Regions from separate parts of the Homo sapiens genome. Here regions 1 and 2 are each linked to region 3. The links come from fine-mapping of genetic effects on gene expression. A gene starts in region 3. Each other region holds a variant in brackets. All regions are shown on one strand. Distances are from middle to middle.

Evidence for each region. PIP is the estimated chance that this variant, and not a neighbour inherited with it, causes the effect.
Region 1: its variant is the best candidate, but not a certain one, in a credible set for the expression of CMTM3 in whole blood (INTERVAL, PIP 0.88).
Region 2: its variant is the best candidate, but not a certain one, in a credible set for the expression of CMTM3 in whole blood (TOPMed, PIP 0.68).

Annotation. Positions count from the first base shown.
Region 1 is chr16:66,498,305-66,502,543 of GRCh38, reverse strand. No RefSeq gene overlaps it. Among named protein-coding and RNA genes, the nearest start is that of BEAN1-AS1, 24 kb to the right of the region's middle. The variant C/T (reference allele first, on the strand shown) is at 2,314.
Region 2 is chr16:66,519,880-66,524,118 of GRCh38, reverse strand. All of the region lies in intron 6 of TK2 (thymidine kinase 2), which reads left to right. Among named protein-coding and RNA genes, the nearest start is that of TK2, 28 kb to the left of the region's middle. RefSeq lists enhancers at 108-217, 1,617-1,686, 3,591-4,091. The variant A/G (reference allele first, on the strand shown) is at 2,277.
Region 3 is chr16:66,602,854-66,607,092 of GRCh38, reverse strand. It overlaps CMTM3 (CKLF like MARVEL transmembrane domain containing 3), which reads right to left and starts at 2,389. Exons shown (of 5, transcript NM_181553.4): 1 at 2,141-2,389. The coding sequence starts at 2,287. It also overlaps a transcript of CMTM4 not described here. RefSeq lists silencers at 1,385-1,604, 1,665-2,504.

The DNA.
Region 1 (4,239 bases), 100 kb after region 3:
TTTTGGTTTGGAATAAGCATGCTTATTATGTTAATGGTCAGAAAAGAATGAATAAAAAAAAAATAATTAGCTCGCCTTTCCTGCCCCTGGAATCCTTGGCCTAAGTTGCTCTCCCAGGTTCCTTTGCTGCAGGTCAGGTGCCCTGGGGGATATGCCTTGGAGTGGCTGTCATGGTTCCAAGCTGACGCAACCTCTTGCCTCATCCTCCTGAGATTGCTGACCTGCTCTGCCTCCAGATCAGCCTGTTCTTTTTTTTTTCCATTTATTTATTTTAAGAGACAGGGTCTCACTCTGTCACCCAGGCTGGAGTGCAGTGGTGTAATCACGGCTCACTGCAGCCTTGAGCTCCTGGGCTCAATCAGTCCTCCCATCTCAGCCTCCTGAGTAGCTGGGACTACATGGCTGGCTAATTTTAATTTTTTTTTTAAATTATACTTTAAGTTTTAGGGTACATGTGCACAACGTGCAGGTTAGTTACATATGTATACATATGCCATCTTGGTGTCCTGCACCCATTAACTCGTCATTTAACATTAGGTATATCTCCCAATGCTATCCTTCCCCCGTCCCCCCACCCCACAACAGGCCCCAGTGTGTGATGTTCCCGTTCCTGTGTCCATGTGTTCTCATTGTTCAGTTCCCACCTATGAGTGAGAACATGTGGTGTTTGGTTTTTTGTCCTTGCGATAGTTTGCTGAGAATGATGGTTTCCGGCTTCATCCATGTCCCTACAAAGGACATGAACTCGTCATTTTTTATGGCTGCATAGTGTTCCATGGTGTGTATGTGCCACATTTTCTTAATCCAGTCTATCATTGTTGGACATTTGGCTTGGTTCCAAGTCTTTGCTATTGTGAATAATGCTGCAATAAACATACATGTGCATGTGTCTTTATAGCAGCATGATTTATAATCCTTTGGGTATATATCCAGTAATGGGATTGCTGGGTCAAATGGTATTTCTAGTTCTAGATCCCTGAGGAATCGCCACACTGACTACCACAGCGGTTGAACTTGTTTACAGTCCCACCAACAGTGTAAAAGTGTTCCTATTTCTCCACATCCTCTCCAGCACCTGTTGTTTCCTGACTTTTTAATGATCACCATTCTAACTGGTGTGAGATGGTATCTCATTGTGGTTTTGATTTGCATCTCTCTGATGGCCAGTGATGATGAGCATTTTTTTCATGTGTCTTTTGGCTGCATAAATGTCTTCTTTCGAGAAGTGTCTATTATATCCTTTGCCCACTTTTTGATGGGGTTGTTTGTTTTTTTTCTTGTAAATTTGTTTGAGTTCATTGTAGATTCTGGATATTAGCCCTTTGTCAGATAAGTAGATTGCAAAAATTTTCTCCCATTCTGTAGGTTGTCTGTTCACTCTGATGGTAGTTTCTTTTGCTGTGCAGAAGCTCTTTAGTTTAATGAGATCCCGTTTGTCAATTTTGGCTTTGGTTGCCATTGCTTTTGGTGTTTTAGACATGAAGTCCTTGCCCATGCCTATGTCCTGAATGGTATTGCCTAGGTTTTCTTCTAGTGTTTTTATGGTTTTAGGTCTAACATTTAAGTCTTTAATCCATCTTGAATTAATTTTTGTATAAGGTGTAAGGAAGGGATCCAGTTTCAGCTTTCTACATATGGCTAGCCAGTTTTCCCAGCACCATTTATTAAATAGGGAATCCTTTCCCCATTTCCTGTTTTTATCAGGTTTGTCAAAGATCAGATGGTTATAGATATGCGGCAATATTTCTGAGGGCTCTGCTCTGTTCCGTTGGTCTATATCTCTGTTTTGGTACCAGTACCATGCTGTTTTGGTTACTGTAGCCTTGTAGTATAGTTTGAAGTCAGGTAGCGTGATGCCTCCAGCTTTGTTCTTTTGGCTTAGGATTGACTTGGCAATGTGGGCTCTTTTTTGGTTCCATATGAACTTTAAAGTAGTTTTTTCCAATTCTGTGAAGAAAGTCATTGGTAGCTTGATGGGGATGGCATTGAATCTATAAATTACCTTGGGCAGTATGGCCATTTTCATGATATTGATTCTTCCTACCCATGAGCATGGAATGTTCTTCCATTTGTTTTATCCTCTTTTATTTCATTGAGCAGTGGTTTGTAGTTCTCCTTGAAGAAGTCCTTCACGTCCCTTGTAAGTTGGATTCCTAGGTATTTTATTCTCTTTGAAGCAATTGTGAATGGGAGTTCACTCATGATTTGGCTCTCTGTCTATTATTGGTGTATAAGAATGCTTGTGATTTTTGCACATTGATTTTGTATCCTGAGACTTTGCATCCTGAGACTTTGCTGAAGTTGCCTATCAGC[C/T]TAAGGAGATTTTGGGCTGAGACAATGGGGTTTTCTACAAATACAATCATGTCATCTGCAAACAGGAACAATTTGACTTCCTCTTTTCCTAATTGAATACCCTTTATTTCCTTCTCCTGCCTGATTGCCCTGGCCAGAGCTTCCAACACTATGTTGAATAGGAGTGGTGAGAGAGGGCATCCCTGTCTTGTGCCAGTTTTCAAAGGGAATGCTTCCAGTTTTTGCCCATTCAGTATGATATTGGCTGTGGGTTTGTCATAGATAGCTCTTATTATTTTGAGATATGTCCCATCAATACCTAATTTATTGAGAGTTTTTAGCATGAAGAGTTGTTGAATTTTGTCAAAGGCCTTTTCTGCATCTATTGAGATAATCATATGGTTTTTGTCTTTGGTTCTGTTTATATGCTGGATTACGTTTATTGATTTGTGTATGTTGAACCAACCTTGCATCCCAGGGATGAAGCCCACTTGATCGTGGCGGATAAGCTTTTTGATGTGCTGCTGGATTCAGTTTGCCAGTATTTTATTGAGGATTTTTGCATCGATGTTCATCAGGGATATTGGCCTAAAATTCTCTTTTTTTGTTGTGTCTCTGCCAGGCTTTGGTATCAGGATGATGCTGGCCTCACAAAATGAGTTAGGGAGGATTCCCTCTTTTTCTATTGATTGGAATAGTTTCAGAAGGAATGGTACCAGCTCCTCCTTGTACCTCTGGTAGAATTCGGCTGTGAATCCATCTGGTCCTTGACTTTTTTTGGTTGGTAAACTATTAATTATTGCCTCAATTTCAGAGCCTATTATTGGTCTATTCAGGGATTCAACTTCTTCCTGGTTTAGTCTTGGGATGGTGTATGTGTCGAGGAATTTATCCATTTCTTCTAGATTTTCTAGTTTATTTGCGTAGAGGTGTTTATAGTATTCTCTGATGGTAGTTTGTATTTCTGTGGGATCGGTGGTGATAATCCCCTTTATCATTTTTTGTTGCATCTATTTGATTCTTCTCTCTTTTCTTCTTTATTAATCTTGCTAGCAGTCTATGAATTTTGTTGTTCTTTTCAAAAATCTAGCTCCTGGATTCATTGATTTTTTTGAAAGGTTTTTTGTGTCTCTATCTCCTTCAGTTCTGCTGTGATCTTAGTTATTTCTTGCCTTCTGCTAGCTTTTGAATGTGTTTGCTCTTGCTTCTCTAGTTCTTTTAATTGTGATGTTAGGGTGTCAATTTTAGATCTTTCCTGCTTTCTCTTGTGGGCATTTAGTGCTATAAATTTCCCCCTACAGACTGCTTTGAATGTGTCCCAGAGATTCTGGTATGTTGTGTCTTTGTTCTCGTTGGTTTCAAAGAACATCTTTATTTCTGCCTTCATTTCGTTGTGTACCCAGCAGTCATTCAGGAGCAGGTTGTTCAGTTTCCATGTAGTTGAGCGGTTTTGAGTTAGTTTCTTAATGCTGAGTTCTAGTTTGATTGCACTGTGGTCTGAGAGACAGTTTGTTATCATTTCTGTTCTTTTACATTTGCTGAGGAGTGCTTTACTTCCAAGTATGTGGTCAATTTTGGAATAGGTGCGGTGTGGTGCTGCAAAGAATTATATTCTGTTGATTTGGGGTGGAGAGTTCTGTAGATGTCTATTAGGTCCGCTTGGTGCAGAGCTGAGTTCAATTCCTGGATATCCTTGTTAACTTTCTGTTTCGTTGATCTGTCTAATGTTGACAGTGGGTTGTTAAAGTCTCCCATTATTATTGTGTGGGAGTCTAAGTCTCTTTGTAGGTCTCTAAGGACTTGCTTTATGAATCTGGGTGCTCCTGTATTGGGTGCATATATATTTAGGATAGTTAGCTCTTCTTGTTGAATTGATCCCTTTACCATTATGTAGTGGTCTTCTTTGTCTCTTTTGATCTTTGTTGGTTTAAAGTCTGTTTTATCAGA
Region 2 (4,239 bases), 83 kb after region 3:
CTTAATTTCACATTTGTTGCTTCATATTTGGGTTGCTGGGGGCTGTGTTGTGTTATCTTTGTTTTTAAGGTTTCTGGACTTATTCCTAGGCCAAGAATCAGGCAGCCATAGGGCAAAGTAAAAAGTATTTTTAGCCAGAGCCACAGAAGGGATAAAGGGAAGGAAGACTAGAGCTTGGCCACTCTCCGGACAACTCCAGCTGCCCTCGATGGAGCGGTCATCCACAACGAAGTATTACTGAGAAAGTAGATGTGGGGTTTTTTTGTTTTTTGTTTTTTGTTTTTTTGATTTTGAGACAGAATCTTGCTCTGTTGCTCAGGCTGGATCACTCAGGCGATCTCAGCTCACTGCAACCTCTGCTTCCCAGATTCAAGCAATTCTCCTGCCTCAGCCTCCCGAGTAGCTGGGATTACAGGCGCCCACCACCACGCCTGGCTCATTTTTGTATTTTTAGTAGAGACAGGGTTTTACCATGTTGGCCAGGCCGGTCTCGAACTCCTGACCTCAAGTGATCTGCCTGCCTCAGCCTCCCAAAGTGTTGGGATTATAGGCGTGAGCCACCATGCCTGGCCAAAGTAGATGTTTTTAGAGGTTTCGGCTCCTTCAAAATGCAGATTACTGTCATTGTCACTACCTATGCAAAATGTAGCATAGAACTGACTTTGGCTGGGTCCTTTGCCCATACCTAGAATAAGGTGTCTTGGTTCCCACCTGCAGGGAGTTCAGCCAGGTACTGGGAACCACACGGTGGCATGTGGGGCGTCAGCTCCTGCCTGGGAGCTCGTGTTTCCTCATTTCCTGGGATGCTCTAGGAAAAGGCTTCCCAAAATGCCATGATGGGGAGCCCTTCACAAGGTGGGAGGGCACATTACCATTGCCCCTTCAGTGCTTGGGTTGATCTTTTTCTCCCTCTCAGAAGCTCTTGCAACCTTGGTTCAGGATCTGTGGGGGCCTAGACAGAAGGCTATATGGCAGGCTCAGGTCCCCAGAAAAGCCCACATATTGGAATCCTGCATCTCCTCGAAGTAAAATTTCTTGAAGGGTGTTCTTGCTCTTTGGGCTGTGAACAAATGAAGAGCTCGCCAGGGAAAAGACCCACCTCTTCTGGCACTGTCTACCCTGGCGAGGTTGGGGTGTGCAGAATGTAACTGCAGTTATGCCACCAGGGATTCGAGAGGGCTGTGTTAATTGCTGGAGAGGAAGATTCCAGTTACACAGTATCCTTAAAGACGGGAACTTCTTTTTCTTTTTTTTGAGACGGAGTTTTGCTGTTATTGCCCAGGCTGGAGTGCAGTGGTGCAATCTCGGCTCACTGCAGCCTCCACCTCCCGGGTTCAAGCGATTCTCCTGCCTCAGCCTCCCGAGTAGCTGGGATTAGTCATGTGCCACAACGCCCGGCTAATTTTGTATTTTTAGTATAGATGGGGTTTCTCCATGGTGGTCAGGCTAGTCTCGAACTCCCGACCTCAGGTGATCTGCCTGCCTCAGCCTGCCAAAGTGCTGGGATTACAGGCGTTAGCCATTGCGTCTGGCCAAAGACAGGAACGTGTAAGGGGCAGGCAGCTGGCTGGCATGAAAAGCTGAAGGTGGTGAGCAAGATTCATGTAGCTAAAGAGGCCACACAGGTGACTGTGTGGGCCGAGTAATGGGAAGCAAAGGTTTTACAAGATTGCCTGGTCGTCCTTTTCTAAGAACAGAAGTGAGGGCGTGGAGTGGGACCCAGCTCGGGAAGTGGCATGCTGACTCACCTGTGGCTTGTGGTTGGGGACACTGAGTAAGACCTGGTGTTTGGAACCACAGGCTGGGCCTCCTCCCCTGCTGATTGGCCCAGGGGCTTAAGTTCTTCCCAGCTCCTGTCTAGACTGAAACCTCCTGGTGTGGGTCATGCGCCTAAGAGCTGTGGCCTTCCTGGAGCTCAGGCTAGAGAGACACTGGACTTGATCCGAGTCAGCTGACAGACTGGGGTGGGCGGGTGGTGCAATGGAGAGCATTTGGGTTTGGGGGTAGGGAGAGCCAGGCTTGGACCCCTGCTCAGACAGAGTTGGCCTTCACTTCTCTGATCCTCAGGTTTCTTCTATAAACTGGGACTGAAGCCAGCCTCACAAGGTCTTGTGAAAACAAAAGGAAATAACGTATACAAGGGAGCTCTTCCATTCCATTCCGCACAGACTGGGGGGCTCTCTTGGCCTCAGGGAAGGATGCAAGAAATTGTACTGATGTAACAGCAGGATTCATGTGGATCAAGACCTTGGTTTTGCCCCCTTGGGGTCAGGGCA[A/G]GGGTGAGACCCCCATGCCCACTGTTGAGTTGTGTGCTTGGATTTGCCAAGCTTGGATTTGCTTGGTATTGCTCTCCGTGCATTCTGTAGAAATAAAGGCAGTGGCTTGTCTTGTCGGTGGTGTGGGGAGCCCCATGCTTGAGACAGACACAGGAGGAGCTGGGCAGAGTTCCTAGGAGGAAATACAGTTAGAGCAGCGCCCACTGTGCCCCATGTCCCTCGGAGTCATGGAGATCAGGCTTCTGTTTCCTCACTCAGCTCAGACACTGGTCATTCAGTCCTCCTGGATCCCCCAGCCTCTTCTGGCACATGGTTCTAGTCATGGAAGGGTTTTCAATAGGTCTGGCCTACTGACCCTGCCCATGGGAGGCCACCCGACCAAGGACCCCTTCCAAGAGCATTGGGAAGGGAGAGGCTGCCCCTCAGTCTGCACCAACCCTGTGGGGGAAGCCTTTTGTTTGGCTGTGATGGGGGTGGGAGTGGGAGGCCCCTGTGACTACCTGGAGCCGATTCCCAGGGGAGCTGTGGCAGGGGCAGAGCCACCGGAGTCTGTCAGTCCCAGAGTCCCCCACAGGTGTGACCCCCTCCCCATGTCTCCATGTGCAGACCCCCGTGTACTGTGACTGTTTTGCAGTGGTGGTTGGTTTGGTTTTAGTTAACACTGCTTCATTTGTTCTGAGCTGTGGTTCAGTTCCATGATCATATCTGTGGGCACCCTCCCAGCTCTGGGATTGGACAGAGTCTCCCTCGAGCTGTGCAGACGCATGAGGTACTCCGGTGGCTAGTCCAGCCTTGGACACTTGGGAGACTGTCCCATGGGCAGCTCAGCTTCTCCCCAGTTGCTGCTAACTGGCCCCACCCCTTTGGTGCCACCTCTTCTGTGCCCTCAAGCCATGAGTTTGCTGGAGTAGGCGAGAAGCTAATCAGCAGCTTCCTCATTGCACATCCTCATTTTCTTAGAGTCAATTTTGTTCTCAGTCTTCTTTTTCCAGAAAAGGAAAATAAGAGATAGTGGTTTGGTTTCTTGAACATCAAATATTCGGAGCTGAACTAACTGAAACCCAACTCAGGGTAGCCTGAACAATGAGGTGTCATCAACTCCCAACAGATGGCTTATTTGGTGCCTCTGGCCTGGTTTCTCTACATTTTGCTACTGTGCATCCTGTTCGTGTCCTCATGCAGTTCTCTCAGGGTGACAATGTAGTCGTGGCAGCATTGGGCTTCTCACTCGCTGGTTGGAGTAAGGGCAGGTGTCTTGCTAGTGGCTCTTCCCTAAGCGTGCGGAAGTATCTTTTCTGTAAGTCCCTGCAAACCTCCCTCACGCCTGCCTAATCCAAATTGGGCCCCTGGCTGGGGGAGGCCCTGCACTGATTGACTTAGCTTGGCTTCCTGAACGCATTGCTGGAACTAGGGGAGACGACTTCCTTTAGACCGATTGTGCCTACCCTAAAGCTTGGAAGCTTGGGGTGGGGTGAGGTTTCCCTGAAGCCCTTGGGTCTGTGGATGGACCCTGAATAAAGAATGGGCTACTTTTAAGGAGGTAAGCGGAGAGGAGGCAGGGAGGCAGCCTGTGGACACAAAGTTGTCACCTGAACTTGTAGTGCCTGAGTTTTGTTGCCTGGGAGTCCCCTCTGCAATGCTGTAGGATTTCCTTCCCACTCCTCCAGCCTCCCACGCAGCTTCTCCAGGTTTTCTGGGAGTCCTGGCCGTCCCACAGGTTGGTCTGCCCTGGCCTCTGTGCTGCAGTCTGCTCAGGCCCCGCTGCTGTTCTCCGTCCACTCTCCCGCTCCTCTGTCAAATACTCTTCTCTTCTGAGGACATGGGGGTGGTCTCAGAGACTAGGGGAGAATGTCCCTCTCCAGTTGGTGCCATGCCTTGCTGTTAGGGCCCCAAGACAGGGCTACTTGTGCCCTTGGCCTCCCAGAGTGCCTGCCTCACTCTTCCAGCCTCTTACTTCCTTCCA
Region 3 (4,239 bases):
CAGATGAGAAGACTCTGTCACATGGCTAATCAGAGGCTACTAGAATTTGAACCCAGGGCTGGCTGACCCCCCAGATAGAGTTATCTTACCTCCGCCCCAGAGATGGAGTCTTGCTCCGTCTCCCAGGCTGGAGTGCAGTGGCACGATCTCAGTTCACTGCAACCTCCACCTCCGGGGTTCAAGTGATTCTCCTGCCTCAGCCTTCCCGAGTAGCTGGGATTACAGGCGCCCGCCACCAAACCCAGCTAATTTTTTTATTTTTAGTAGAGACAGGGTTTCACCATGCTGGCCAGGCTGGTCTCGAATTCCTGACCTCAGGTGATCCACCCACCTCGGCCTCCTAAAGTGTTGGGATTACAGGCATGAGCCACCACGCCCGGCCCAGGTAGAGTTCTTAAGCAACTTGGCCCTGTGGGTGTTGGGGAGGCCATCTGTCCCTGGTTTCTGTCACTGTGGCTGCGTTTGAACATGTCTATGGCTGAGTAGTTTCTAGTGGGTGCAGGAGTCCCCATGGGGACACCCAGATGCCCCACAGGAAGCACTGTGGCTGCTTCAGACAAATGAACTGCAGGGATCCCAGGGGGTCCCCAGAGCACCCCCATTTGCTCTGCACATGGCCTTGGGTGCAGCTGAGCCCCCTTTGGAAAGATAGACTAAGGCATAGAGACGGGCTGGGAGGCTGCTGGGGCCTCCCAGGAAGGCCTTCCATGGGACTGACCCAGCTCTGGCCCTCCCCTTCCTGTCTCCTATGCCTGCACCCCAAAGCCTAATTCTGGGGATTCCCCTCTCAATTCCTGTTTTTTCATCCCGCGATTTCTGGGGCCACTTCCTCTCTCTGTTTCTGTCCATCTCAGCCTCTGCACTTGCTTGGCCTGGGGGTGGGAGTGAGGGGACTAGGGAGGCAGGAGTGCCCTCAGCGGCTCCTGTGAACCCTGAGTGCTGACCGTTCACCCTTCCTTATCCTCCCTGACCTGGATTCCTGACATCTGCTGGGCCCAGGGTGGCCTCTATGCTCCTGCTGGACATATGCCTCCCTCTTATGAGGTGGTCTTGGGTGGGGATGGGGGGGTTCAAGCCACTCTGGGGACGGTGGATTCGAGGCTTCTCCCCTCAAGTGGCTCCCAGTGGTCTCCAGGGTGGGGCTGGGAGTGTGGGCTCGGAGTGTGGCATTGGTGTCTCACTTGGGCGTTGGGCAGGTGGCCTCTGGGCTGACCGTGGGAGAGGCTGCAGGACCACCTTCTGCCCTCTGCCCTGAGTGACCAGGGAGAGGTCCCGGAGCAGAATCCCCCTTCCTCCTGCCCCCACCCTCCTGGCCGCTCTCACTGGGCCCCTCAGTTGAGCCACCTGTCAAATCAGGCGCCTGAGCGCTCTCATCTGTAAAGTGGGGACAAGGGCAGGAAGCGCCAAGTTCCTGGGATCTAAGCAACAAGTGGCCGCCGCCGTGCGCCGCTCTCTCCTCCCGCCTCCCCCGGTCTCCGGCCCGGCCTCTCCCTCCCCATCCCCAACGGCCCAGCGCCACCCCTACCCCACAGCGGACAGTGCGGGCGCCTCCGGTGTCCAGAGGACAAAGAAGCCCCACCGGCCGGGGTGGGGGCGAGGGCGGAGTAGGAAGGAGCCCGGCCGCGGAGGGGAGGAGGGCGATGAAGTCACCGCGGGGCCGCCTCACCCAGTCCCGGGGGTGGGGGATCCCTCCCGCTCCGCACGGCCCCCCGCCGGCTCGGCCCCGCAGGTCGAGGCCCCGGCCCGCACTACCCGCTCGCAGGAAAGCGGACCCCGCTGCGGCCCGGGAGTCCCGGAGGTCCGAGTTGCCCGAGTCCCCGGGGCCCAGAGAGGGCGGGGGCGCCTGGCTCACACAGCAGGACCCACATCCCCGGGCCCCACCCACTTCCCACGGCCCCCAGCTCTGGACTCGCGGGGACAGCGCCGCGGATGGCCTGGGCTCGGGCCCCGCCCCGCCGTCCAAAGTTTGGGGACCTCGACCCAACTTCGCCAGGCGCCCGAGAGAAGTCGGCCGAGGCGGCGCGGAGAGGGGGTATCGGAGCACGGCGGCCGCCCCCGGACCCCACCCGCGCCCCGACGTCCTCCTCCGAAAGGAGCCGCGCAGTCCTAGCGGGGCGGCCGAGGGTCCCGCCGCACTCACCGACTCGGCCAGCAGGAGGCGGCCTTTGAGAGAGCAGAGGAAAGCCCGCGCCGGCAGCAGGGCGCGGAGCCCGGGGACCGCGGGGCCGGGACGGGAGCCGCCGGCAGGCTCGGGGTCCGGGTCGGGGTCGGGGTCTGGGGGCCACATGGCGGCGGCGGCGGTAGGGCCGGGGCTCGGCCTGGCTCCCCTCTTCTCGCGCCCGGAGGGAAGCGGAAACCCGGGCTGTGCGGAAGGAGGGCAGGCGACACTGGCTCGCGCAGGGGCGCATCCCCCGCCGCCACGCCCCGCCCCGCCCCCACCCGCTCCTCCAGCCCGCCCCTCCCCCTCGGACCCCGGCTGCGGGGGATGCTGGGCCCGACCCGCCCCCTCCCCGGCCTGGGGCCTCCGCAGACTCCACCTTCTTCTTCACCCTGGTTCGGGCCGCTGGAGACCTCCCGATCACCGCCCCGGCACCCCTTCGGAGCTCCCACCCGTCTGCCCCTATCCAGAAGGGCTGTCTATACTCGCTGTCTCCGGTCTAACTTCCTGCCCGTGCGCGTGTCTGGGATCCGGGAACCCAGGCGTCTAAACAGCAAAGACCCCGGCCGTGATGTCGGCTCCGCAACCCATGCCCTCTCTTTTTCTTGGGGGCCGGAGTTTTCTTGCGACTTTCTTGGCCACCCCTCCTGTCCCCGGCCAGCCCCACCCTCCTCCAGGGCCTCTTTGTTGGCTGTTCCAGGCCTCGGTCCTGCACCCGCCTCCCCCAACCCATTCTCAGAGGACTCTCAGACCTGCAAGCGCAGCTCCAGGCACACACACAGACACACACACACGCGCGCGCGCGCGCAAACACACACAGGCACGCACATCTGCAGGACTTCCTGACCTGCAGTCCCCCCACCCCAACACATCTCTCTCTCTCACACACACACACACACACACTCCACACGCACATGCGTGCACATCTAGAGAGCGTCTGGAGTTCAGCGTGATCAAGACCCAGCTTCCTGTGCCTCTGCGAAGGGCACTGCCCCCTCCTTTCCTTCCACCTGACTAGCGGAGACCTGCGGGTTGTCCTTGTCCCTCTTCACCGGCAGTCTGTAACCAAGGTCCTCCCACTTTCACCTCCTATAACTTTCTCTGATCTCTGTCTACTTCTCACCACCACTAGATCCGAAACCATTCCTGCCTGCTCCCCGCTGAACTGCTGTGATGGTGTCTTTAAGAGGCCCTTAGGTTTTCTCTCTGGGCAGCCGGGGGAGAGCTTATGGCACAGTACTGCGCACCCTTGACATAACTAACTCCATCTTAGAAAAAGACTTCATTTTATATTTCATAGGGTGCTTTGCCAACAAGGGCAAGATGTTTTGTTTAATAAAAAATAGAAGGTCAGGCGCTGTGGCTCATGCCTGTAATCCCAGCACGTTGGGAGGCTGAGGTGGGTGGATCACGAGGTCAGGAGTTCGAGACCAGCCTGGCCAATATAGTGAAACCCCGTGTCTACTAAAAATACAAAAATTAGCTGGGCGTGGTGGCACCGTGCCTATAATCTCAGCTACTCAGGAGGCTGAGGCACAAGAATCGCTTGAACCCGGGAGGCATAGGTTGCAGTGAGCCAAAATCACACCACTGCACCCCAGCCTGGGCGACAGAGCAAGACTCTGTCTCAAAAAATAAAAAAAAAAATAAATAAAGACTGCGTCCAACCACATAAGGACACAAAGAAGCACACTGTTCCTCTACCATTTCTCACCAGAGCACTCTGTGACTACAAAACAGCAGCCCAGCAGCCTTAACTGACAACCATCCCACTGCCGTTCATAAGAACTCTGCATCTGCCTCCCAAGGCTCTGCCCCTCAAAGACTCTGCAAGACCCTCAAGCCCAGACCAGGATTCCTTTTGTCTTCTTCCTTACCCTGGAACTGGTTCCTTAACCCTTTCTCCTATCTCTTTTTCTCTTGATGTTAAATGCTACTTTGTTTGTTGTGGAATGTTTATAACATTTACATGTGGATTAAGTATACTATTATATATGGTTTGCAATATTGACTGACTTGTGGAGTGGCTTGAGCCCATGTGCTCACTACTGAGTGAACGGGAAGTACTAAGGAAAATTGGC